Homo sapiens: one gene and its partners. The protein of the gene in region 1 purifies or fractionates together with the protein of each later gene. This does not show direct contact. Each region holds a gene or a part of one and is shown in the gene's direction. Other genes may lie near its edges.

Region 1 (3,489 bases):
TAGAGCAGGATGGCCAAGTATGCCCCGGCCTGTGTCTGGAGAAGCAAGGCACCTCCTGTGTACAATGGGGACCCTAATTCCCCACTCAACTTGTGGGGGTGAAGAGCACAGGCTTTGGAATCAGATCAACCTGAGTTTAAATCCCAGCTGGGCTGTTTTCCAGCTGTGTGACTTACGGCAAGTCTTTGAGCCCTTTTCCCCCTCTTTGAGCCTGCTTCCTCAGCTGTCAGAGATAAGGACCTTCCTTGCAGTGCTGTTGTGATGATTAAATGAAATCACAGATGTAAAGAGTGCTTGGTACAACAGGAGGCACAGGGTAAATGCTTGGGTAATGGAACTACTGTCATTATCACCCATCTGGCTGCATGTTACAAGGTCAATGAGATAATGGATACAAAATGTAAACTAGATGAACATAAAGGCTTATTATATAGACCAGTGTGTCCTGAAGAAAACTGGTGTCCTAAAGTGTGTCCTGCAGAAAACTAGTTCCCTGGAATGTTAATAGCTGTTTCTAAATAAAGGTTTTGCAGGCAATATGTTTTGAGAATGCAGAGTTAAATGAGAATACAATAAGTTTCTTTATTGTTAAAGTATTTAATCCCTAATAGTGATATACACTGTGAATCTTCAAGAGGACAGAGTAAGCAAACCTAACTGACCAGGAGTGGCTAGAGTATTGTCAGTTCCACAGAACAAATGTGAGAGAAAGATCTGGATTTGGTGTTAGGGTGCCTTTAACATCTAACACTGGTTAACTCTCCTTTTAAACCTGTTGGCTTGGCATTATAGGTTAATCCATATTCAGGTTCTCAGACCTGGGAGGCGGGGAACTTCGTGATCATCTTGTTCAGTGTTTTCCAAACCTCAGTCATTCCAATACCTCCCTGATTCTTGTCCTATCTAAAAATGCCACTTGTGTCCTTTTCTTCTTAACATTTTTCTTTAAATGAACCTATTTTTTTTTCTTTATCTTTTTTTTTTTCTTTTTTGAGACAGAGTCTTGCTCTGTTGCCCAGGCTGGAGTGCAGTGGTGCAATCTCAGCTCACTGCAACCTCCACCTCCTAGGTTCAAGCAATCCTCCCGCCTCAGCCTCCTGAGTAGCTAGGATTACAGGTGCCCACCACCATGCCTGGCTAACTTTTGCATTTTCAGTAGAGATGGGGTTTCACTGTTGGCCAGGCTGGTCTTGAACTCCTGACCTCAAGTGATCTGCCGCCTCAGCCTCCCAAAGTGTTGGGATTACAGGTGTGAGCCACTACGCCCAGCCGAACCTATTTTTTTTCTTAAATAAGTTTATCGAGACGGAGTCTTGCTCTGTCGCCTAGGCTGGAGTGCAGTGGCGTGATCATAGCTCACTGCAGCCTTGAACTCGTGGGCTCACATGATTCTCTGCCTCAGCCTCCTGAGTAGCTGGGACCACAAGTGCCCAACTAATTCTTTTTCTTTTTCTTTTTCTTTTTTTTAGAGACAGGGTCTTGCCATGTTGCCCAGGCTGGTCTCGAACTCCTGGCCTTAAGCTGTTCTCCTGCCTCAGCCTCCCAAAGTACTGGGATTACAGGTATGAGCCACTGTGCCCATCCTTTAAGTAATTTTAAAAGACAACTTCATAGCACTACCGTACGTGGAAAGTCTCACTTGCCACCGAGAGAAGCTAGCCATAAAAATAAAAGGTGAGGCACGGTGGCTCACACCTGTAATCCCCGCACTTTGGGAGGCTGAGGTGGGCAGATCACCTGAGGTCAGGAGTTCAAGACCAGCCTGGCCAACACGGTGAAACCCCGACACTACTAAAAATACAAAAATTAGCCGGATGTGGTGGTAGGCGCCTGTAATCCCAGCTACTCGGGAGATTGAGGCAGGAGAATTGCTTGAACCCAGGAGGCAGAGGTTGCAGTGAGCGGAGATTGTGCCACTGCATGCCAGCCTGGGCGACAGGGCGAGACTAAATAAATAAATAAAGTAAATAAGTAAGTAGTGAAAATGAAACGTCATTAAATCTTGCCTAGATGTTGTTGCCTGAAGGAGGCCCTGACCTGAGATCCACTTTCTGACTCTTTTCTAAAAATGGAGATGAGAAGTGTTAGAGAAGTACTTTTTTTTTTTTTTTTTGAGAGAGAGTTTCACTCTTGGTGCCCAGGCTCGAGTGCCATGAGCAATCTCGGCTCACCACAACCTCCACCTCCCAGGTTCAAGCAATTCTCCTGCCTCAGCCTCCCAAGTAGCTGGGATTACAGGCATGTGCCACCACGCCTGGCTAATTTTGCATTTTTAGTAGAGACAGGGTTTCTCCATGTTGGTCAGCCTGGTCTCGAACTCTCAACCTCAGGTGATCCACCTGCCTCAGCCTCCCAAAGTGCTGAGATTACAGGTGTGTGTGTGAGCCACTGCAACCTGCCCAAGAAGTCCTTTTTTTAAAACCAAACTGAGAGCTGGCCAGGCGCGGTGGCTCACACCTATAATCCCAGCACTCTGGGAGGCAAAGGCGGGCGGATCACAAGGTCAGGAGATCGAGACCATCCTGGCTAACACAGTGAAACCCCGTCTCTACTAAAAAATACAAAAAATTAGCCGGGCGTAGTGGCAGGCGCCTGTAGTCCCAGCTACTCGGGAGGCTGAGGCAGGAGAATGGAGTGAACCCAGGAGGCGGAGCTTGCAGTGAGCCGAGATCGTGCCACTGTACTCCAGCACTCCAGCCTGGGCAACAGAGCGAGACTCCGTCTCAAAAAAAATAAAAAAATAAAAAAACCCCAACAAAACCAAACTGAGAGCTTCTCAATTTGTAGTCAGAAAGATTAAAAAACAATTAGGCTGGGTGTGGTGCTCATGCCTGTAATCTTAGCACTTTGGGAAGCCTAGCTAGGAAGATTGTTCAAGGCCAGGAGTTCAAGGCCAGCCCTAGCAACATAGTGAGACCCCCCCTCATCTCCATACAAAAAAAAAAAAAAAAATTTTTTTAAATAGCTGAGTGTGGTGGTGCATGCCTATAGTCCTAGCTACTTGGGAGGCTGAGGCAGGAGGAATGCTTCAGCCCAGGAGGTTGAAGCTGCAGTAAGCTATGATTGTACCAGTGTACTCCAACCTGGCCAACAGTGAGACCCTGTCTCAAAAAATAATAATTAAAAGGGGACCAACCTCCTGATACAGTGATATTTACTCTAGTGCACACCACCTAAAAACCTCAGGTACCAATACTTGTACATGTCTCATTTTTGGACAAACACTGACTTGACCGAGCACTTCCTTCACTAGAAACAGAAGTGGACCCAGAGGGGGACTCCCTTGCCTGGGTCACACAGAGAAGGAGTAGCTGACCTGGGGTTAGAACTTGAGTCCTAGGCCAGTATACTTTTCACAGTTATGGCAGTTGTGGCTATCTACAGACCTGTCCTCTGGGTCTAGTTTGGAAAAGCCTGACCAGGGATGTGGAGGCCAGGTGTCCAAAGTGGAACAAGCTCCAAGCTGGTCCTAAAGGAGCCCCAAGAGAT
Region 2 (3,500 bases), on another chromosome or scaffold:
GGCTCACGCCTGTAATCCGAGCACTTTGGGAGGCGGAGGAGGGCGGATCACAAGGTCAAGAGATGGAGACCATCCTGGCCAACGTGGTGAAACCCGGTCTCTACTTAAAATACAAAAATTAGCTGGGCATGGTGGCGCATGCCTGTAGTCCCAGCTACTTGGGAGGCTGAGACAGGAGAATCGCTTGAATCGGGGAGGTGGAGGTTGCAATGAGCCGAGATCGTGCCACTGCATTCCAGCCTGGCAACAGAGTGCAACTCTGTCTCCAAAAAAAAAAGGGGGGGGGCCTTGCCATCTTTAAATATTTCCTCCTTAAATCCATTTCAGTAAGTTCTTTTGTTGCCACCACTTCACCAAAGCTGCTCTACTCAAGGTCACCAGTGACCTTCACCATGCTAAAACCAGTGATGAATTTTCAGTCCTCATCTTGAATTGAATTAGCACCGGCACTTGACACTGTTTGTCATTTTTTCTTTTTTTAAACACATTTTTCTTTTAGCTTCTTAGACACTACTAGTTTTTCTTTCTTTTTTTTCTGAGACAGGGTCTTGCTCTGTTGCCCAGGCTGGAGTATAATGGGCAAATCACAGCTCACTGCAGCCTCAACCTCCTTGGCTCAAGCAATCCTTCCACCTCAGCCCCCAAGTAGCTGTAACTACAGGCACATGCCACCAAGCCCACCTAATTGTTGTATTTTTTATAGAAACGGTTTCACCCTGTTGCCCAAGCTGGTCTCAAACTTCTGGGTTCAAACAGTCTGCCCACCTCAACCTCACAAAATACTGGATTACAGGCGTGAGCCACTGCATCCGGCTTACTCCTAGTTTTTCTTCAGCTTTGCTTGTGTCACCGCTTCTCAGGCTTTGCCGATTCATCCTCAGAGGCCCTAAGGCGCCCCAAGACTCAAGCCTGGGATCTTTTCTCCCTTCTAGATACGCTCACTCCCTTGGCGATCTCACCTGGGGTCTCATAGCTTTATATCCCATGTATTTACTGATGGTTCCCAAATTTATACCTCCGCCCACAACCCTTGCCTGAACTACAGGCTGGTTTGTTCAGCCTGCTGTCTCCAGTTGGATGTCTAAATGGCACCTCAAACTCTGCATGTCTAAAACTAAGCTCCTGGTATCTCCTCTCTCTCCTCAGAGTAGTTCCTCTGGCTCTTTTCCCCATCTCAGTTAATAGGGACGCCACTCTTCCTGTTGCACAGGCTAAAAATATCAGCATCATCCTTGACTTTCTTTTTCTCATACCTTACATTCAGTTAGCAGATCCCACTGGCTTCACTTCCAGCATGTAAAGTCCTATCCAGAGTCCAGCCACTTCTCGCCATCTCCACTGCCACCACCTTGATCCAAGCCACCATCATCTCTCACCTGGGCTTTTCCATGATTCTTTAATTGGTCCCCCTGATTCTGCCCTTATCCTCTTTTGTCTCCCCTCAGTGGTGAGCTTTGTAAGGACAAGGATGCTTCTGTTTTCTCATTGCCCAAAACAGTGCCTGGCACTAATAGATTCTGAATAAACATTGATGGAGTAAACCAGGATTATTTTTGCTTTTCTAGGTGAAACTTCGAGAAATGAACTAAGTTTTTACTTGTCCAATTTTCCTTTCTACAGTGGTAGAGCTTTGTGTTCAGTATGGACAGAATGAGGAGGGAATGGTAGGCGAGCTTATAGCCTTCTGCACCAGCACACATAAAGTTGGCCTTACCTCAGAGATCCTGAACTCTTTTGAGCATGAGGTAAGAACAAAATGAAAGCAAACTAATAATGTGATTCTCCATTTCTGCTCTACAGGGGAGGCATTGTGATATATTGAGAGGAGTGTGGGCTTTCGAGTCAGGCCTGGATTCCAGTCCCAGTGTGAGCTTGGACAAACTATGTCCCTGAGCCTCAGTTTCCTTTTCTGACATTGGGTCTAATAATCTGTATTTTTTATGATTGTTATAAGAATTAAATGGGGCTGGGCGCCGTGGCTCATGCCCATAATCCCAGAACTTTGGGAGGCCGAGGCAGGCAGATCACAAGGTCAGGAGTTCAAGACCAGCCTGGCCAACGTGGTGAAACCCTGTCTCTACTAAAAATACAAAAATTAGTTGGGCATGGTGGCAGGCGCCTGTAATCCCAGGTACTCGGAAAGCTGAGGAAGGAGAATCGCTTGAACCGAGGAGGTGGAGGTTGCAGTGAGCTGAGATTGCGCCACTGCACTCCAGCCTGGGACAGAGCGAGACTCCATCTCAAAAAAAAAAGAAATGAGAATGGACATAAAGCACTTAAAACTATGCCCAGCAGGTGATAAGTCTTCACCAAATAATTGGTATTATTAGGATTGTTATATGTTATAGACAGTCATGGGATGTCTTTGTTTTTAGTCTGTGTGTATCTTAATTCTTTGAGGAATGTTAGATCTTTGATTATATTTTGAATACCTTTTATTATCTCAAGGCTTTTGAAAACACCTCTGCTATTACTTGACTATGAAGTACTGTATTCACTATCTTTTCTTTTTCAGTTTCTGAGCAAAAGATTATCGAAAGCCAGGCATAGTACCTGCAAGGACAGTGGCCATGCAGGAGCTAGAGACATTGTTTCCATTCAAGAGCTGTATCCTTTTCTGCTGAAGGTCTTTGCACCAAGCTACATGTTGTATTTTATAATTTGTCTGTAGTCGCATGTGTAATTTAAAAACAAATAATAAGGCCGGGCACGGTGGCTCAGGCCTGTAATCCCAGCACTTTTGGAGGCCGAGGCAAGCAGATCACTTGAGCCCAGGAATTTGTGACCAACCTGGGCAACATGGTGAAACCCTGTCTCTATCAAAAGTACAAATTTTTTTTTTTTTTTGAGTTGGAGTTTCGCTCTTTTTGCCCAGGCTGAAGTGCAATGGTGCAATCTCAGCTCACTGCAACCTCTGCCTCCCAATCTCAAGTGATTCTCCTGCCTCAGCCTCCTGAGTAGCTGGGATTACAGGTGCACACCACCACACCTGGATAATTTTGTATTTTTTTTGGTAGAGACAGGGTTTCACCATGTTGGCCAGCTGGTCTCGAACTCCTGACCTCAGGTGATCCGCCTGCCTAGGCCTCCCAAAGTCCTGGGATTACAGGCGTGAGTCACCGTGCCCGGCCAAAGTACAAATTAAAAAATAATAATAATAAGCTGGGTGTGGTGATGTACGCCTGTAGATCCAGCTAGTTGGTAGGCTGAGGTGAGAAAATCTCTTGAACCTGGGATGTGGAAGTTGCAGTAATCTGAGATCAGGCCACTGCACTCCATCCTGGACGACGAGGAAACCCCATCTCAATAATAATAATAGTAAAAATTGCCTAATATTGAGATTTCTTCTAGCAATCAGCCCTTGCCTTATATGAAAGTTTATTATTATTATTATTATTTTTTTTTTTTGAGATGGAGTCTCGCTGTGTCGCCCATGCTGGAGTGCAGTGGTGTGATCTCAGCTCACTGCAAGCTCCGTCTCCTGGGTTCATGCCATTCTC
Region 3 (4,246 bases), on another chromosome or scaffold:
TACTGTCATCAAAAATCCCCTTCTCTGGCCAGGCACGGTGGCTCACACCTGTAATCCCAGCACTTCGGAGGCTGAGGCAGATGGATCGCTTGAGGTCAGGAGTTTGAGACCAGCCTAGGCAACATGGCGAAACCCCGTCTCTACTAAAAATACAAAAATTAGCTGGGCATGGTGGCGCGCTCCTGTAGTCCCAGCTACTTGGAAGGCTGAGGCACAAGAATCGCTTAAACCTAGGAGGTGGAGGTTGCAGAGAGCCAAGATCCACTGCACTCCAGCCTGGGCAACAGAGTGAGACTCTGGCTAAAAAAAAATGGGGTCGGGTATGGTGGCTCATGCCTGTAATCCCAGCACTTTGGGAGGCCAAGGCAGATGGATCACCTGAGGTCAGGAGTTCGAGACCAGCCTTGAACCCAGGATGCGGAGGTTGCAGTGAGCCGAGATCACACCACTGCACTCCAGCCTGGGTGACAGAGCGAGACTCTGTCTCAAAAAATAAAAATCCCCTTCTTACAGTTCACGAGTGTCTCCAAGATCTTGCCTCTGCCCTCATCTACTGCCTGTCTTCCCTCTTTCTGCAGTTGCTCAGCCCGGACTCACTGACAAGCCACGGGACCTTTGCACAAACTGTACCTCTGCCTCCTTCCCCAGCACTCCCCCTGAGCACCCTCCAAGTTCCTTTCTCTCGTTCTCCATGGCTTCACAAATGTGATTTCCTCAGGGAAGCCTTCATCCTTTGCCCCTTCCACCAGATCAGGTCACTTGTTACGTTATACCCTCACGGACTTGTCACGTGGGTGTTTATCGGTATGGCTGTCGAATTAGCATCTGCCGCTCTCAACAGACTGTGAGCCATGTGAGGGCAGGAGCCTTGTTTCTCTCTGCCCACCATTGTATACTCAGTGCCTTGCAGAGTGGCAGGCGGCAGGCACTTAATAAATATTGGCTGAATGTAGCCAATGAGGCCATGTGTAACCTATGAGACATAAAATGGGCTCATCAGTATTATTTAAGGAAGACTTCCTGGAGTGGGTAGGATTTGAGTAGGACCTAGAGACGAGGAGGCTGCAAAAAGCAAACCTTGTTAGCTGGTGGACCTGGCCAAGGTACGCCTTCGCCTTGGATCTCATTTCTCATTTGTAAAATGGGCAGGGGTTGGACAAAATGAGCTGAAGCTCTGGCATCCCATGTCCCTAGCATCTCCCAGCCCTAGATCCCACAACTCTCCCTATTCCCTTGAGAAGGGCTGTCCTCCCCAGGCAGGGGCAGAGCCCAGTTTTATGCACAGAATGGGTCCTCCCAAGGCTCGGGTGCCTGATCTGCAATTCTGCGCTCCGCCGCAGGGCGACGCTCGGAGACCAGCCACACTGTCCCAAGTCCCGGCGAAGACCCGCCCGCGGCTCCGTAGGTGCCCGGCCCGCCCCTCGCAGCCTCCTGACTTCCCTTCCTGTCCTCAGCGGCCGGGCCCACGGCCCCGAGCAGCCATGCTGGGCGCGCGGGCCTGGTTGGGCCGCGTCCTTCTGCTGCCCCGCGCCGGTGCAGGCCTCGCCGCGAGCCGCAGGTACGGGCGGGCGAGCGGGCCCCTAGGGCACTCCCTGCGCCTGCCTGCGGGCCCAGTGGAGGGTCTTCCGGACACCGGTCCCCAGTGCCAGTCTGGACCACCCCTGCATGCCTGGCCCTTCCCCCACCCCACCTCCGGTCTGCTCCTGAGACCTGGCTCTGGCTGTAAGGCCCTCCTCCCCTCCTCTCCCGTCCTCATCCCTTCCCTCCTCTCCCCTTCCTTCCAGTGCAGTGCCAGCTCCTCAGGGACTGTTCTGACACTGCTTCCAGGAAGCCTTCCTTGCACCCCAGTGCTGGATGCTGGGTCAAGGGCCTTTCTCCAATAGTACCCTGTGCCCTGTCACAGTCCTTTATTGCTGCATGGACCTTTCGTTATTTAGGTCTGCCTGCAGTCCCACTTCCAGGCTGAACTCCCTGAGGTCTCTGATTCCCTAGGTGTCCTGGAGTCTGGCCCAGGACCTGGCCCCACAGGAGTCCCAGCAGGTGGGCGCTGAGTGAGGGAGTCCCCATGTCTGGTTTCCTCTGTTTGTCCCTCACCTGGTCGAGTCCCAGACCCTACTGATCTTGGCCTGTCCAGCCACCAACAGTAGGCTGCCTTCCAGTGGGGCCACACCCAGGCCTGCCAGAGAGATGCCTCCAAGCAGCTGCTCCAGGAAGGGCCGGGGGAGGGGCCTGGGGAGGGGTAAGAATGGAGCCCCAAGAACCATTCTGCCCATTGTGACCCGCCCTGACCTCACAGCCATCCTTCCCACCGCCAGGCCCAGGAGGTTGGGGGAGACTAACCTGGCAAGGAGCCCCCAATGAGCCACCTCTCCTCACCCCCCAAAAAACATAAGGGGGAGCACAAAGGCCACAGTCTCCCCCATGGTTCAGAAAGGTGGGTTGGGCTGGGAGCAGGGGTCCTACTGGGGTGCTGAGTGAAATGGAGCAGGTGCTGGGGGGCCTGGGAGAAGGTGGGTGGAGGCCCCTGGCTTGCCTGATGCACCAGTCCTCGCCAGGGGTAGCTCCTCCCGGGACAAGGACCGAAGTGCGACGGTCAGTAGTTCAGTGCCCATGCCTGCTGGAGGGAAAGGAAGCCATCCTTCATCTACACCCCAGAGGGTCCCCAACCGCCTGATCCACGAGAAGTCACCATACCTCCTACAACATGCCTACAATCCTGTGGACTGGTGAGCACCTCTCCTGGGGCCCTGCCTGGAATCGCTGGGGTCCTGGGCCCCTCCCAGACCCCCTGGGCTACTGAGTGATGCCCCACCCTGCTGGGTCTAGGTACCCCTGGGGACAGGAAGCCTTCGACAAGGCCAGGAAGGAAAACAAGCCGATTTTCCTCTCAGGTAATGCTCCCACCTTCCCTGATGTGGGGGTGTGGGCAGGGAGTGGCAGTGGATGGGGGAGGGTCCTCTCGGCCTGGCGGGTCTTCCAGGAGACTAGAGGCCAGGACGTCTTCCATGTAGCCAGGGCCACTTGGCCAGCCTCCCTCTGACCCGTTGCTGGCCCCCTGACCTCTCCCCATGGCCCTGTTCAGTCGGGTACTCCACCTGCCACTGGTGCCACATGATGGAAGAGGAGTCCTTCCAGAATGAGGAGATTGGCCGCCTGCTCAGTGAGGACTTTGTGAGTGTGAAGGTAGACCGTGAGGAGCGGCCTGACGTGGACAAGGTGTACATGACGTTCGTGCAGGTGAGCAGCCCTCCTCGGGAGTGTATGCGCCACATGGGCTCAGAGCAGCTCCCCTCACCCTCGCCCTCTCTCCGCCAGGCCACCAGCAGCGGCGGGGGCTGGCCCATGAATGTGTGGCTGACTCCCAACCTCCAGCCCTTTGTCGGGGGCACCTATTTCCCTCCTGAGGATGGCTTGACCCGAGTCGGCTTCCGCACAGTGTTGCTGAGAATACGAGAACAGGTGGGTGTGCCTCCGGGAGTTGGGGGACCAGGGTGGGGGACTAGGAAACAAGAGCCCCTCCCCCTAGCTGACCTCCAGGTGTGCCCCCACCTCCCGCAGTGGAAACAGAACAAGAACACCCTGCTAGAAAATAGCCAGCGTGTCACCACTGCCCTGCTGGCCCGATCAGAGATCAGCGTGGGTGACCGCCAGCTGCCGCCCTCTGCCGCCACCGTGAACAATCGCTGCTTCCAGCAGCTGGATGAGGGCTATGATGAGGAATACGGTGGCTTCGCTGAGGCCCCCAAGTTTCCCACGCCGGGTCAGTGCCCCACGCCCGCCTTAGCCCAGGCTTTGGCCTTCTGATTCCTATGCTGGTCAGGGACCTACTGGCTCCTGGCCTCACCCATAGCTTCCTGTCCTCCTGACTGGCAGTGACCTCCTTGCCCCTAGCCTGTCGGTAGCTATCGGTGAAGACCCGACTGCTGGTGTCAGCAGTGACCCTCTCACCTTAACCTAGATGATGACCTTCTGTCCCCTGACTTGGTCAGTGACCCAGTGACCCTGACTTGGCTAATGACATTCTGGGCTCTAGGGGGACAAGTAACTTACTGGTCCTCTGTGAACCAATGATATTCTGACCTCTGGCTTAGGCTATTACCTTCTGTCCTGTGGGTTGACTCTTGACCTCACAGCCTGTCCAGAGACTGCCTGTTGAGTGAACTCCCAGCCTCTGCCTGGCCCAAGGCCTCCTGACCACCCCGATCTCTGTCCCCACTTTCCCATTCTCTCACCTGCATGTTCTTGG
Region 4 (3,500 bases), on another chromosome or scaffold:
TATGAGTAGCCTATTTGTATTTCCAGTTTGGTATTCTTTGATCCTGGAAGGATGGACGGGCAAAGGGGAGATGTTAGTCAAGTAGTGCGAAGTTTCAGTTAGACAGGGGGAATAAGTTCTAGTGATCTGTTGCGCAGCATGGTGACTATTGTTAACAATCATTTTTTGTATATTTCAACATTGTTAAAAGAGTAGACTTTAAATGTTTTTACTGCAAAGAAAGAATATGTGAGGTGATGTGGAATGCTAATTAGCATGGTTTATTATTTATTTACTTATTATTATTCTACTACAATGTAGACATGTATCATAACATTACGTTGTACCCCGTAAACATATGCAATTTTTGTTAATTAAAAAAATTTTTAAAAAGATGAAAAAAAAACCCAATTCAGAATGTTTATGTGTTGTGTTTTATTGTTCTAAAAGAGAGGATTTTTTTTTTTTCCAGGCAACCTAATGAGGCCTCTCTTGAATTATGGTATTGCTTGGTGAGCATATATATATTTTTAATGTTACTTTTCAGAATAATGTTGATTAATTTATACAAATTAGTTGTATTTTTATGTTACTGTTGCAGTATGTCTATGGGCTTTCTGGTTGAAGAAAGTGAACCAGTAGTTTGGAGAGGCCTTATGGTAATGTCGGCCATTGAGAAATTGTTGAGGCAGGTAAGAATATTGCTTTAAATATCATTTTATCATTGGCAAAGCTGTGGTTAATACATTTGCTGATTGGAGAATTGTTAAAATTTGCATTCAGGAATCAGTTGATGGGATGAATGTATAATGCGTAATATGGCACCTAATGAGTTAATGTGATGCCAAGACCAAACTTCACTGTTAACATGATTTAATCTTTCCCATTGCTTGTGAGTACTAAAAATTCTATTGTCTTACTTAATACTGTTTTCTTGCTTTGACTGTGTCTGCAGTAAGAAGACCAAATCAATTTTTATAAGTTATCTTCCTTCTTTAGATTTGTGATTAATCTCATTGTGGTCAATATTGAGTTATAAGGGCAGTGTAGAAATTCTACAGATGTAGAAAAAAATTATATAAACCAATGTACTTGTGATTTAAAATTGCTCCAGAAAAAAGTAAAATTTTGTTTTGAGTATATATGGTTATATATTTGCATGTGTAATATCTGTCCAATCAACTTTAATTTAGCCTTAAGAAAAGAAGAGAACATTTGATTGGATAATCTAAAAATATCAATTGGGCTATATGTTATTTATAGTTAGCTTGGAATAAGTTTTATTTTTTTCTCAGTAGATTTGAGTTTGTAATTGTCTTCTAGGTAAAAGTTAAAAGTAATTTGCATTTACTTCATCAACTTATAACAGTTACCTTTTATTTGTTCAGATTCTACTTTGGGTCAGGCACCATGCAATAGGTTGATAATTCTAATGGTAGATACTCCTATATTCATTTTCAGGTATACAATTAAGTAGATGAAATCTGTCTTGAACTCTGAAACTCTTCTTTTTTTCACTATAACATCTTGCCTTTCTACCACTTTTGCTGCTTGAATTGTGATAAATGTGCTGTTTGATTTTTGGTCCTAGTCATTTAAGTCTCTTGGTTTCATTTTCTCCTCTTTTACTGTCAGATCCCCTAGTTAGTGATTTCATTTAAAATCCCCAAACCACCCCATCCCCACCAATTCCTTTGTGACCTTGACCTTTATTTGTCTTGATTAACCCACCCTCTGTTTTCTGTACTTCTAAATACTATCAGAGAATATAGAATAGTTGTGTTAATTGCCTGCATTATATATTTTTGATTTTTGAATTTAGCTACCTTCACAACACTTCAGTCATCAGATTTTACATGTTGTTATTCTCAAAAAATATTCAGGGAATTTGGTAGTCTAGCAGAGGTCCAAATGAAGATTTGGCAAAAACAAGCTCTCTGACACATAAATTGTATAAAAGTTACAGTTTATTGGTTAGGTGTGGTGGCTCACGCCTGTAATCCCAGCACTTTGGGAGGCCGAGATGGGCGGATCACGAGGTCAGGAGATCGAGACCATCCTGGCTAACACGGTGAAACCCCATCTCTACTAAAAATACAAAAAAATTAGCCCTGCTTGGTGGCGGGTGCCTGTAGTCCCAGCTACTCGGGAGGCTGAGGCAGGAGAATGGCGTGAACCCGGGAGGCGGAGCTTGCAGTGAGCCGAGATCGTGCCACTGCACTCCAGCCTGGGTGACAGAGTAAGACTCCGTCTCAAAAAAAAAAAAAAAGTTACAGTTTATTTTGAGAAGTATGGTGGATACATTTTCAGCAAACATACTATAGAATATCAGGATAAAGATGGGGTAAGAAAATGGATTCATATTTTATTGGGATGCTTTGAGGTTACCTAGAGTATATCTATCTTACAGTCTTTCGTGAAGTCACTTTCATGTGTGCATTTTATTGGGAGCTGAAAAGCTGGTATTTTAGGCCTACACTGGGACTAATGCTGATCATCAGAGCTAAGGAGTGTTTTCACTTTTGTTTTGATTTAGAAACCAAACCATTATTTGGTAAATTTAACATCCTTAATGAAAATTCAGTAGCTAGATAGAACTTTTGTACCTGATTCATTGGCTCATTTTAAACAATTGAATATAACATATATACAGAAGAATGTACAAATCATGAGTATAATTAGATAAATTATCCCAAAGTTGAAACACCTATATAATCATCATTTAGAACAAGATAACTAGAACAAAACCAGTGATCCAGAACATCCTCTCATGTTCCCTCCTAGTACCCATTTATGGGGAGAAGAAAAATACTGTGGTCATTCTGATATCCTGAACTAGAAGTCTGGTTTAAAGTTGTTTTGTTTTTTTCTTTTTCTCCCTGACAATACTTTGTTGAGCTAAAATTATGCATACAATGAGATGCATAGATTTTCAGTATATAATTCAGTGATTTTTGATAAATATATATACCTATGTAATCATAACCCAATCAAACTAAATAGCATTTCCATCCTCCAAGAGAGTTTCCTTGGGTCCCCTTCTGTTTCATCCCATACCCATAGACAATCATTGTGATTTCTGTCACCGTAGTGAGTTTTACATGTTTTTAAATTTCAAATGAATAGGATTATACAGGATGTAGCTTTTTTTTTTTTTGAGACAGAGTTTAGCTCTTGTTGCCCAGTCTGGAGTGCAATAGTGCCATCTCAGCTCACTGCAACCTCCGCCTCCCAGGTTTAAGCAATTCTCCTGCCTCAGCCTTCTGAGTAGCTGGGACTACAAGGCATGCGCCACCACGCCTGGCTAATTTTGTATTTTTAGTAGGGACGGGGTTTCTCCATGTTGGTTAGGCTGGTCTTGAACTCCCAACTTCAGGTGATCTGCCCGTCTCGGTCTCCCAAAGTGCTGGGATTACAGGCGTGAGCCACTGCAACCGTCCAGGATGTAGCTTTTTTTTTATATGGTTTCACTTAGCCTAAGGCTTTTGAAATTCATGTTTATTGTTGCATATAATAGTAGT
Region 5 (3,500 bases), on another chromosome or scaffold:
TTCCTCATGCTTCATTTTCCCCTGTTTTCTAAGGTTAAAACTGAGAGCTGTTTCTCCAATGCAAAGCTGCTTGTTTAAGGGTTTCGTATTTGATGTTGGAAATGCTCTGGACTCTTCCATGGTTTTTATATTCCAGTGATTTCACTGCAAACCTGGTGTGTACGCCTTGTAAATTTTGACCCTGGCCAAGTGAAAGGTTCATTTTAAAAGTTTTAAAATAAATTTTAAAGGGGAGCTGGAAGTGGAATAAGTTAAGAACAGTATCAGTTTTGCCTTTCACTCTGACAGAGGCACTCTCTGCTCTGACTGACGGGTGTTGATTAAAAGTATAATATTCAAAAGAAATAGTAAAGTGCATTGGGCCTTGTTAATGTTCTACTAATTTTCTGGGGCTCCGTTTTCAAATTATAGGTGAAATTTTTTTCCTTCCAGTGTTAGTGCCTATGATAAGAAAATACATTTTCTCCACATCTGTCCACAAACCTGCTAGACCCTGTTTTGTGACTACCTCCCCTTGGAACTTGGGGCTCCATGGAAAACACACAGCTTGACCCAGCCAGCCCTCAGAGAGCCTGGGCCGGTCACTGCAGTGGCTGGATTCTCAGCATAAAAAGGCCAAACGTTCGGCCAGGCTGGGACTGGCTCCCATCCAGGACCAACTGTCCACAGTACAGTAAGGCCACTCTCTGAGTCAACATTGTTTCTTTTCTGAATTGCTAAGTTGACCGTCCCTGCAGAAGCAGAGAGGGCTGCGGTGTGGCATTCCTGCCCACTCCAAATGAGGGCAGCCCGGACGCGGGAGCTCTCAGGGAGGCGCAGTGGGCTTTGGGTGTGTCTGGACTGTCTCCACCACACCTGGAAGATACTGTTCACTTCCTTTTTACACTTGTGGGAAATACATGACAGTGTTTACGGGCAGGCTGGCTTTCCGTTTATTTCAACCCTGACAATTGAATAGCAGCAGCAGATGATGAAACTGTTCACTTCCCGATCACTCCCGTTCTCAGATCCATCACTTAGCTCGTCCGTCGCTCAGCTCGTCTGTTAGTCTGAAAGATGAATCGTGCACGGGTCCTCCTGAGAGTGCTGTTCTCGGGGTCTCCATGTGTGAAGTTGTTACATCCTCATGACAACTGTGTAACAGCTGTCACTGAGCCATTTTACAGATGTGGAAACTGAGGCCCTGAGAGGCTGTGGAGGGCTACAGTGTGTCCTGGGCATTTGAGCCCCACACTCTGTCATTAACTCCTGTGCTCGCTGGGACTGGGGGAGAGCAGGACGCGGCAGCACCCCCGGCCCCACTGTGTGCTCCTCTGTGTGCAGGCGACTGTGAGCATACTGGCACCCATGTGAGGGCTGAGTGGTGCTGGTGTGGGCGCATAAAGCACAGGGCGGCTGCGGGGAGCTGGGTGTGTGTCAGTGGCTCGGAGCATTAGTCTCGTGAACATGGTCTGCCAGGTGCGTCATGCTGGGCTACAGAGCCCATGGCTCCACCATAAATGGTGGTTTTGTGTTTGAACTTGAGTGTTGCTGCTCAGTGAGGCCAGAGGAAGGCACCAACCTGCAGGCCTGGCCGGTCCTCACAACACGGAAGGCAACCAGTCCACTAGAGAGACATGTGTCCCGGCCACTGGAGGAGTCCAAGTGACCTTTAAGTCTCACCAGTCCTCAGAGCAACCCAGGTGAATTTGGGGCCTGAGCTTGGTCGTCTGGCCGAAGACCAGCTCAACTTGGATAAAGCTGGAGGAGAAGCCTGTCCCTCAGGCAGCTGCCAGGGCATCTGTGATTTCTGCTTGCGTGCACTCTTGGCGACTATTGGTGGTGGTCGCAGTCAGGGCATCTGGTTGCCTTTACTGTCCTTACACCAGCTGGGCAGAGCTCAGGCTGGGAGCCCAGTGGGAGAGGCCGGGGCGTGACTCCCGGCGCAGAAGCGGCAGTGGCACACCGGCGTCCCAAGCACAGCTGTCCCTGCCAGGCCCCTGCGCGTTGGATCTTTGGGTTGAGTCATGCTCGATGGTGCAGCCATCCTTTCAAGGGAACTGAGCTGTCCAGCGTCCCATGGAGCAGCTCCCCGTGGATCCGGAGAGGCCGTAAATAAACCTCCCCATTTGTAAGCCGGGAACACACATGAACTTTGCAATCGTGTTTGTCCTGGGATCATAGAACGTGGTGGCTGGCAAGACCCAGGCATCCTCATCCTGTGCTGCTGTGAACAGAGGCCGGTAGCTTATTGAGGGACCAGTCCCAGTTCGCTTTCTGTGGGGAAGACTCTGATGGAAGCCTAGGCCCCAAACTCCAAGGTTAGCACATCTTCTTGGGGGGATTGACACCTCCAAAGGTGAACTTGGGTCCAAGGCACGTGTGTGCGACCTGAAGCATGGGTGCCGTGTGCAGGAGACGCCCTCACCGGAGATGGGGACCGAGTCCACACGGCTCTAACTGCAGAATCACTGGCCCTGTGCCCACGACTATTTTATTTTGCTGTTTTATATGATCACAAAGTACACTGTCTTGTTTTTCCCAAAGCATTTGCAGTGAGACATCCCACTTCCTCTCCACGGCAGCTGTTGCGGGCACGAGGCTGCTCCCAGGACAGCGATGCCACCGGGGCTGGGGTGGGCACGGAGGAACCCTCTTCCTTCCTCCTCCCCGCCCTCTGCTCCCCCACAGACTGGCCTGTCTTTAGTCAGCACTTTCCCAGGCTCCCTTCTGCCCACCACGTGCAAACAGTGGCGTGTCCTGGGCCTCTCTCCTTGTAGTGTTTCTTGTGGCCAGCATCCCTCCCATCCAACAGCTGTGTGGCTTCCTGACTGGCTTCTCTCAGGGCCCGCAAGGATGCTGCCAAATGGCCAGAGACAGTCACTGCTCTGCACTTCAAAGCAGGCAGCCCTCGGTGGGGCTTGCCCTGAAAGACAGCGGGCCTTCCTCGATGAGAGCCTGTGCTGGCTCAGGGCCTGTGGGGGCTGCAGCTCTGTTCCTTCCCTGCGTCCACGCTCACATGCTGAATGTTGTGCACCACAGGACACCCTGCTGGGGGCTGTCGGGAGCATGCTCTGTGTTTGGGGCAGAGACGGGCAGAGTGAGTCTCAGCATTACTGCCGTGCAGGGTTGAGTCTCAGCATGACTTCCATGCAGGGGGAGTCTCGGCGTCACTGCCATGCGGGGCGAGTCTCGGCGTTACCGCCGTGCAGCTGCTGGAAGCCACTCGAGCTCCTCTGTCTCGTTTGCCATGAAGCCCATGAGAGACACTGATGTGTGTCTCGGGGCTTCTGTGAGAAGAGCTTGGTTACCCACCGGGTCAGGCACCACGTCGGTGCTGTGAGGCATGGAGGGTGCTCACAGCTGTGCAGTCAGCTACAGAGGCCTTTCCCAGCATCCACATCTGACCGGGCAGTCACACCAGGATGAGCTCCCAGGAAGAGGGCTCCCAGCAAGGGAGGGCGCACCTGGGTGTGAGCTTGGAGGAGGGCAGAGGCACCTGTCACCGCTGACCCTGGGTG
Region 6 (3,500 bases), on another chromosome or scaffold:
ACACGAGAGTTAACTTGCGGGTCAAATTTGTGAGAACAGAAATGAACAGATACCTAAAATGGTGTAAGGAAGCATCTAATTTTCTTGAAACCCGTAGGAATCTATATATTCTGCATAGAAACTAAGACTTGGGGTCAGTTCTAACAGTGACAGTTCCTAGGATATAAGAGCAAAGCTCTGCTGTTATCCTCTGTGGGAGGTATTTTGATTTATTTTTTGCATAGCTTATGAATGTACTTGTGGGAATTCTTTAGAAAAGAAAGCTACTTGTTCTTACTGATAACCTGGGTGAACAGAGCAGTTCTATAAAATTTATCTCTCTCCCATCTTTTTTTCATCTAATGTTTCAACATATGGGACAGGAGGTAGCCAGAGATAATTATGGGATATGTATAGATCTCATATCCCTTTTTTCCTCAGATTCCAAGAACTGGACTTGAGCACAGAAGCCTTCTTCTACTTTGAATCTGTGAAGGAACAAGAATGGTCCATGGCTGTAGAGAGAGGTTTGCATTCCAAAGCCAAGTATAAGAAAGTAAGCCGCATTTAATTATCTTTTTAAGTGTATGACTAAATAGGGCTCACCGGGAGTTATTCCATTATCTACAACTTGTTCCAAAAGAATAGTTTAATTGAATTCTTCTCTGTGTGTAATACTGGGATAGGGCAGATTGATCATTCATCCTTATTTCCTAGAAAAAAAAATCCCTAAGCTTTCTGATACTATATTTTCATTGCTTAGATAGCTTTTAGGGGAAAAAAGAATTTTATTATGCTTATATCAATACTTAGTTTGAAATAATTACATATAAGATTTAGATTACTCACTGACATGGTCAGAATTGAATGCTTTACAGAAAAGCAATATGAAACGTGGGCGCATGGTGCATGTGTTGCAATCAGAGCAAGAATAGAAGTGGTGTGGAATTTGAACGAGTTCTAAACTTGGTTTTAAGTTAAGAGGAGAGTTGACTTTAGCAAGATGGGCCAATTTGTTTGTCTTTAGAAGGTATGTGGTAAAGGCATTTAGCTACCAGAAGAGTTAATTACAGGGCTATCATACTAAGGTCTCTAAAAGAAGTAATGTGAGTAATTTTTCTCTACATCTTCTAACAGTTTATATAGGTAATAAAACTCCTGGGGATGTTATTCCTCTCATATAGGTCCCTGACTAATGTATATCTCAGACATATTTCTAGCTGTAGTTCACAAGTTAAAAATAAGTAAAAAAGATTGCTGTTTGGTTGATTTCAATTTCTTAGAAAATTAGACATCAGAAACTAGGAAGGAAAGGTGGAAGGAACAAGCTGGGATAGTGGCTTTATTATTTGAACTTTTAATGCTGCTTACTCCTGGTAGGCTAAGAAGTGATTAAAAGAATAGATCTAGAGCTGAAAGTACTCATTGTCCCTCCCAGCTTTTAACTCTTATTGGTCAGTGCCAGATTAGAGCCTCCCCAGAGAATATTAGTTTCCACTTGACGGGGTCCACTGAGAAATTAGAGGATATGAAGTCAGATTTGGGCACTAGTATATCATCTTGATGGAAAATTAGTCGTGGGACATTAGAAATGTGGCAAAGATTGGTATTAACATTAACCTTTTGTAACTCCCCGGAACTCATAGGTTCAACTGGTGCGCCTTGTTGGGATGATGCTTCTTATATTTGCCAGAAAGGATCAGTGTCGATACATTCGTGATATTGCTACAGAAACAGTTGGAACTGGAATCATGGGGAAAATGGTGAGTTACTTTGGAAATGAGCTTGATTATTATTCATGTTCATGTAAAGTTCAGTTGCTTGTTCTGTGTACTAATTGAATAATTACTCTTGCTAACAGGGAAACAAAGGTGGGGTAGCTGTGAGATTTGTATTTCACAACACCACCTTTTGCATTGTCAATTCCCATCTGGCTGCACACGTGGAGGACTTTGAGAGAAGGAATCAAGATTATAAGGACATTTGTGCGAGAATGAGTTTTGTGGTCCCAAATCAGACCCTCCCGCAGTTGAACATCATGAAACATGAGTAAGTGGTTAACTCACCTGTAGCCTTTGAGTAGTGGCTACAGGAGTTTGGATAGTGTAGAGATTAAATGTGAGATACTGTAGAGCTGTGAAGAGTGAAAGATTACCAGTGAGGGATTGGGGTCACAAAGGAGAGGGTTTTTGAGTAATAACAGAATCATTGAGGCAGAGAAATTAGACTTGATATCAGAGGAAAAGATAGTTCTATTAGTGGGGCACCTAGAATAATGCTGGAGGGTCTGTAGTTGGAGTCAGTTTTTATTGTTTTTATGATAAAATAGAAATATTCATTGCAAATGTAATAAAAGATAAAATTAGAAGTTAAATTTCCTCATTTCTTATTCTCTACCTAGCCAGTCCCTCTCTCCAAAGGAAACCATTCTTAACAGTTGGGTGTGTAGCCTTTTAGATCTGTACTGTCCAATATGACAACCAGTAGCCATATATGGCTGTTAGGTACCTGAAAGTGACTGGTCCAAATTAAGATATGCTGTATGCATAAGCTATATATTGGATTTTAAAGACTTAGGAAGAAGATGTACGATATCTTGATTTCTAAAATATTGATCACATGTTGAAATAATTTGGATATATTGAGTAAAATGAAATTTATTGATACTCACTTGTTTTTTTTCTTTTTAAATGCAGCTACTAGAAAACTTAAAATTATATTGTGAGGTGCATTATAATTCTATTAAATAGCACTATTCTAGCCTTTTGTCTATTCATATACAAACACACACATAGGTACTTGGTGTATAAGACTGTATTATTCTATTTATTGTGGATTCCTTTCCAAGCCAGTATATATAGATCTACATTATTCTTTTTAATGGCTGTGCTTATTAAAAACAGGGGCAGCAGAGAGAGGTCAGTGAAGAATGGGATTTAATAAGCATAGAAGCAGAGATGTGTTGAGGAGTAGATGTGGTGGTAGAAAATGATTAGTTTTAAAGAAATTAATATACCTAAAACCATGAAAACCCTAGAAGAAAACCTAGGCATTACCATTCAGGACATAGGCATGGGCAAGGACTTCATGTCTAAAACACCAAAAGCAATGGCAACAAAAGCCAAAATTGACAAATGGGATCTAATTCAACTAAAGAGCTTCTGCACAGCAAAAGAAACTACCATCAGAGTGAACAGGCAACCTACAAAATGGGAGAAAATTTTCGCAACCTACTCATCTGACAAAGGGCTAATATCCAGAATCTACAATGAACTCAAACAAATTTACAAGAAAAAAACAACCCCATCAAAAAGTGGGCAAAGGACATGAACAGACACTTCTCAAAAGAAGACATTTATGCAGCCAAAAAACACATGAAAAAATGCTCACCATCACTGGCCATCAGAGAAACGCAAATCAAAACCACAATGAGATACCATCTCACACCAGTTAGAATGGCAATCATTAAAAAGTCAGGAGACAACAGGTGCTGGAGAGGATGTGGAGAAATAGGAACACTT
Region 7 (3,500 bases), on another chromosome or scaffold:
TCTGTAGCTGGATGCAGTGGCTAGTGCCTGTAATCTTGGTGACTCAGGGGGCTGAGGTGGAAGGATCACTTGAGCCCAGTTTAAGGCTGCAGTGAGGTATGAGAGTGCCACTGCACTCCAGCCTGGGCAATGTGAAACCCCATCTCAAAAAAAAAAAAAAAAGTTTCTATCTGTGTAGTGGGCCAAGAAAGTTGCACAGAAATATTAAACATTGTTTTTATTAGTAGAAAACTGGGAACAACTTAAATGTCCTTTAATAGGAGTTTGGTGAAATAAATGGTCATATGTATAATATAGATATCTCTATTCTTTAAACAGAAGGAAATCTATATGTAGAAAAATGGAAAGATGTCTCAGATAATATTAACTTCAATTAGTTAAGTTGCAGAATAGTACATATACTATGATTTCATCTTTGTAAATAAACTGTATAGGTGTGTGTTATAAATTATATATGTATGTATTTACATATATTTAGGATTACATATAGAAAAAGATGGAAAGTTTTTTGTTTTTTTTGTTTTTTTTTTGAGACAGAGTCTTGCTCTGTCACCCAGGCTGGAATGCAAGGCGATCTCGGCTTACTGCAAGCTCCGCCTCCCGGGTTCACACCATTCTCCTGCCTCAGCCTCCCGAGTAGCTGGGACTACAGGCGCCTGCCACCATGCCTGGCTAATTTTTTGTATTTTTAGTAGAGACAGGATTTCACCATGGTCTTGATCTTCTGACCTCGTGATCCGCCTGCCTCGGCCTCCCAAAGTGCTGGGATTACAGGCGTGAGCCACTGCACCTGGCCGGAAAGGATTTTTTACAATAGTGTCCCAATTTTTACTACCTTAAACTTTCTGATTAGAAAAAAAGATCAGATTGAGAATGTAAATAATAATGAGAGCCTTTTAAAATACTAAGTAAAATTGGAATATATATTTTTAAATAGCTTGCTAGTTTTCAAAAGGTACTGTTCAAAGAAAATAAAATTGATATTCTTTTCTATATTTAAAAAATAAATGTACTTATCATTATTCAGAATGATATGGTGTGAGGATTCAGTCATTGGTAAGAGCCTGAGTCGATGTGGTGTTTCTTTAGGCATCATACACTTGATCTTACAGCTTTTTTGTAGGACAAAATTAAACATCCTAAGTTTAATTTTACAACTTTATTTCCATTTTATTTGATTTTCTACTGTAAAGTAGCTATAAATGCTGAAATGTATACCCCAAATATAGTTATTTATAAAAAGTTTTGTTTCTTGAAAGAATATATTTACAGTCTTTAAAATTTATTTTGTTTTATTTTAGCTTAAAACAATAGAAACCTTATTGGGTAGTACAACCAAAATCGGAGATGCGATTGTTCTTGGAATGATAACGCAGTTAAAAGAGGTAACTTAATAAGCATCAAACTTTTATTTTTGGCCTTGGATTGATGAAATGTCGGTTACATAGAACATTTTTGTAGTGGGCACAGGAATGTATTCTTTATTGAAAACTCGCCTCACCAACAGAACAATATTGGAATAGTGGTAATACGAGGAAATAGTATCATCATGTCAGAAGCCTTGGAACAAGGATAAATAATGGCTGTTGGCTGGGCGCGGTGGCTCACGCCTGTAATCCTAGCCACTTTGGGAGGCTGAGGTGGGCGGATCACCTGAGGCCGGGAGTTCAAGACCAGCCTGACCAACATGGAGAAACCCTGTCTCTACTAAAAATACAAAATTAGCCAGGCGTGGTGGCACATGCCTGTAATCCCAGCTACTCAGGAGGCTGAGGCAGAAGAATTCCTTGAACTCGGGAGGTGGAGGTTGTAGTGAGCTGAGATGGTGCCATTGCACTGTAGCCTGGGCAACAAGAGCGAAACTTTGTCTCAAAAATAAATAAATAAATAAAATAATAATGGCTGTTCAGCAGAGAAACCCATTTTCTCTCTCCATAGGGCCTGTTTTACAATGACGTAAAAATTAGGTCATGTACATTTTCATATTAGACTTTTTGTTAAATAAACTTTTGTAATAGTAAAAAAAAAAAAAAAAAACCCAGAAAAAACAAAAACCTTTTCTCAGTCACCAAGTGTCTTTTTCATCTGTGTTTGGTTTCCTGAGAAGACATCAGGACAGAGTGTCTTGTGCAGGAGCCCAGTTTGCATAGCCTGAAATTAGGCCTGTAGTGACCTCTGGATAAACGGAGAGTACTGGGTTTCTGAACAAGCAAGCTGCAGAGTATGTCCTGGTCCCTTGGACATGCTGTTGGCTGTCTTAGAAGGTACCTGGGGAGACCCTCCTTATGGCAGACATCAAATGTCCCTCTTGCCATTTCTTATCTGTAGGAGTCATTCTCCATTGTACCTGTGAGGAGTCAGAATCTCAGTTAAGTGATTAGTCTGGGGTTATCAGACTAGTAAATGGAAGAGCCTGGACTAGAAATAATAGCTGATTTTTAAAATCCACTTTCTCCCTATTGTATTCTGTTGTCAAACTTGTAGTTTAATTTTTTTGTCAACGGTTTTCATTGTTACATAAATGTGGATTTATTTATTTTCATTTTTTTAGGGAAAATTTTTTCTGGAAGATCCTACTGGAACAGTCCAACTAGACCTTAGTAAAGCTATATCCTTCACTTGTCTGTATTTTTTAAAATCTGCATTACGTGAATTGGGGAAATTGATTATATATCCTTCTAAAATTTACCTATTTGGGTTCTCAATGTAACTTCTCTATGTTGCTGGTGTAGGAATGTAGAGATATAATCCTAAACAGGGACAGAACAACTTTAATTTTCTCTTATTTGGAGAATCTAGATGAATCACTGACGAAATTTATATCATGGTAAGAATGATCCACCCTGTCAATATTACCAAGAATTAAACATGAGGACATTTAAAACTAAAATTTTTTAAGCTCTTTCTAAGCTGTGGTCTATTCACAGTTTCAAATGGGAAGTCTTTAAATTTATTATTTAGAAGCCTTGTTGGACTCAAAATGTATGTTGACTTTATTACTGCCTCAAGAATAGAATTATTTTCCTCAACTGTTGTGTACCAGTTCCATAGTGGTTTATACACAGAGGCATGCTTTGTCTTAGCAGAAGGTAAGTCAGTATACTTTGTTACTGTCCTTCTTCTCATTCTCCAGTAAAACTTTCTGCTTTGGGTAAAATATGTTAACATGATATAATTTGGGATACCATTAATTAGAAGAGCATATTTTTGGCAAAATAACTCTTAGACTGTTAATGGGCTAATAGAAATCTTTTTGGGGTGATGAAAATGTTCTGAAATTAGATAGTAGTAATGGCTACACAACTTGTGAATATACTAAAAATCACCGAATTACACACCCTTTTTTTTTTTTTTCTTTTTTTTTTGGAGACAGAGTCTCACTCTGTCACCTAGGCTGGAGTGCAGTGGCGCGATCTCGGCTCACTGCAACCTCCGCCTCCCGGGTTCAAGTGATTCTCATGCCTCAGCCTTCCGAGTAGCTGAGATTATAGGCGCATGCC

The links.
Region 2: the proteins of SNX21 (region 1) and POLA2 purify together in Homo sapiens (affinity purification with mass spectrometry; 2 studies listed by BioGRID and IntAct, with this or other methods). This does not show direct contact.
Region 3: the proteins of SNX21 (region 1) and SPATA20 purify together in Homo sapiens (co-immunoprecipitation; 2 studies listed by BioGRID and IntAct, with this or other methods). This does not show direct contact.
Region 4: the proteins of SNX21 (region 1) and NUBPL purify together in Homo sapiens (affinity purification with mass spectrometry; one large-scale study listed by BioGRID and IntAct). This does not show direct contact.
Region 5: the proteins of SNX21 (region 1) and GAS6 purify together in Homo sapiens (co-immunoprecipitation; one large-scale study listed by IntAct). This does not show direct contact.
Region 6: the proteins of SNX21 (region 1) and OCRL purify together in Homo sapiens (affinity purification with mass spectrometry; 2 studies listed by BioGRID and IntAct, with this or other methods). This does not show direct contact.
Region 7: the proteins of SNX21 (region 1) and POLE2 purify together in Homo sapiens (affinity purification with mass spectrometry; 2 studies listed by BioGRID and IntAct, with this or other methods). This does not show direct contact.

Annotation. Positions count from the first base shown.
Region 1 is NC_000020.11:45,836,799-45,840,287, forward strand, and holds part of SNX21 (sorting nexin-21), read left to right. Parts: exon of another isoform or gene 1-537; intron 538-1,469; coding exon of another isoform or gene 1,470-1,593; exon of another isoform or gene 1,594-1,734; intron 1,735-2,681; exon of another isoform or gene 2,682-3,489. UniProt on the Homo sapiens protein: Binds to membranes enriched in phosphatidylinositol 3-phosphate (PtdIns(P3)) and phosphatidylinositol 4,5-bisphosphate. May be involved in several stages of intracellular trafficking.
Region 2 is NC_000011.10:65,264,962-65,268,461, forward strand, and holds part of POLA2 (DNA polymerase alpha subunit B), read left to right. Parts: intron 1-1,620; coding exon 1,621-1,745; intron 1,746-2,515; coding exon 2,516-2,607; intron 2,608-3,500. UniProt on the Homo sapiens protein: Accessory subunit of the DNA polymerase alpha complex (also known as the alpha DNA polymerase-primase complex) which plays an essential role in the initiation of DNA synthesis.
Region 3 is NC_000017.11:50,545,728-50,549,973, forward strand, and holds the start of SPATA20 (spermatogenesis-associated protein 20 isoform 1 precursor), read left to right. Parts: upstream 1-1,446; 5' UTR 1,447-1,481; coding exon 1,482-1,558; intron 1,559-1,937; exon of another isoform or gene 1,938-1,992; coding exon 1,993-2,040; intron 2,041-2,555; coding exon 2,556-2,726; intron 2,727-2,826; coding exon 2,827-2,891; intron 2,892-3,082; coding exon 3,083-3,237; intron 3,238-3,315; coding exon 3,316-3,459; intron 3,460-3,558; coding exon 3,559-3,760; intron 3,761-4,246. UniProt on the Homo sapiens protein: May play a role in fertility regulation.
Region 4 is NC_000014.9:31,672,904-31,676,403, forward strand, and holds part of NUBPL (iron-sulfur cluster transfer protein NUBPL isoform 1 precursor), read left to right. Parts: intron 1-451; coding exon 452-491; intron 492-580; coding exon 581-671; intron 672-3,500.
Region 5 is NC_000013.11:113,854,077-113,857,576, reverse strand, and holds part of GAS6 (growth arrest-specific protein 6 precursor), read left to right. Parts: intron 1-3,500. UniProt on the Homo sapiens protein: Ligand for tyrosine-protein kinase receptors AXL, TYRO3 and MER whose signaling is implicated in cell growth and survival, cell adhesion and cell migration.
Region 6 is NC_000023.11:129,560,759-129,564,258, forward strand, and holds part of OCRL (inositol polyphosphate 5-phosphatase OCRL), read left to right. Parts: intron 1-420; coding exon 421-535; intron 536-1,625; coding exon 1,626-1,742; intron 1,743-1,840; coding exon 1,841-2,028; intron 2,029-3,500. UniProt on the Homo sapiens protein: Catalyzes the hydrolysis of the 5-position phosphate of phosphatidylinositol 4,5-bisphosphate (PtdIns(4,5)P2) and phosphatidylinositol-3,4,5-bisphosphate (PtdIns(3,4,5)P3), with the greatest catalytic activity towards PtdIns(4,5)P2.
Region 7 is NC_000014.9:49,664,215-49,667,714, reverse strand, and holds part of POLE2 (DNA polymerase epsilon subunit 2), read left to right. Parts: intron 1-1,301; coding exon 1,302-1,385; intron 1,386-2,551; coding exon 2,552-2,608; intron 2,609-3,040; coding exon 3,041-3,089; intron 3,090-3,500. UniProt on the Homo sapiens protein: Accessory component of the DNA polymerase epsilon complex. Participates in DNA repair and in chromosomal DNA replication.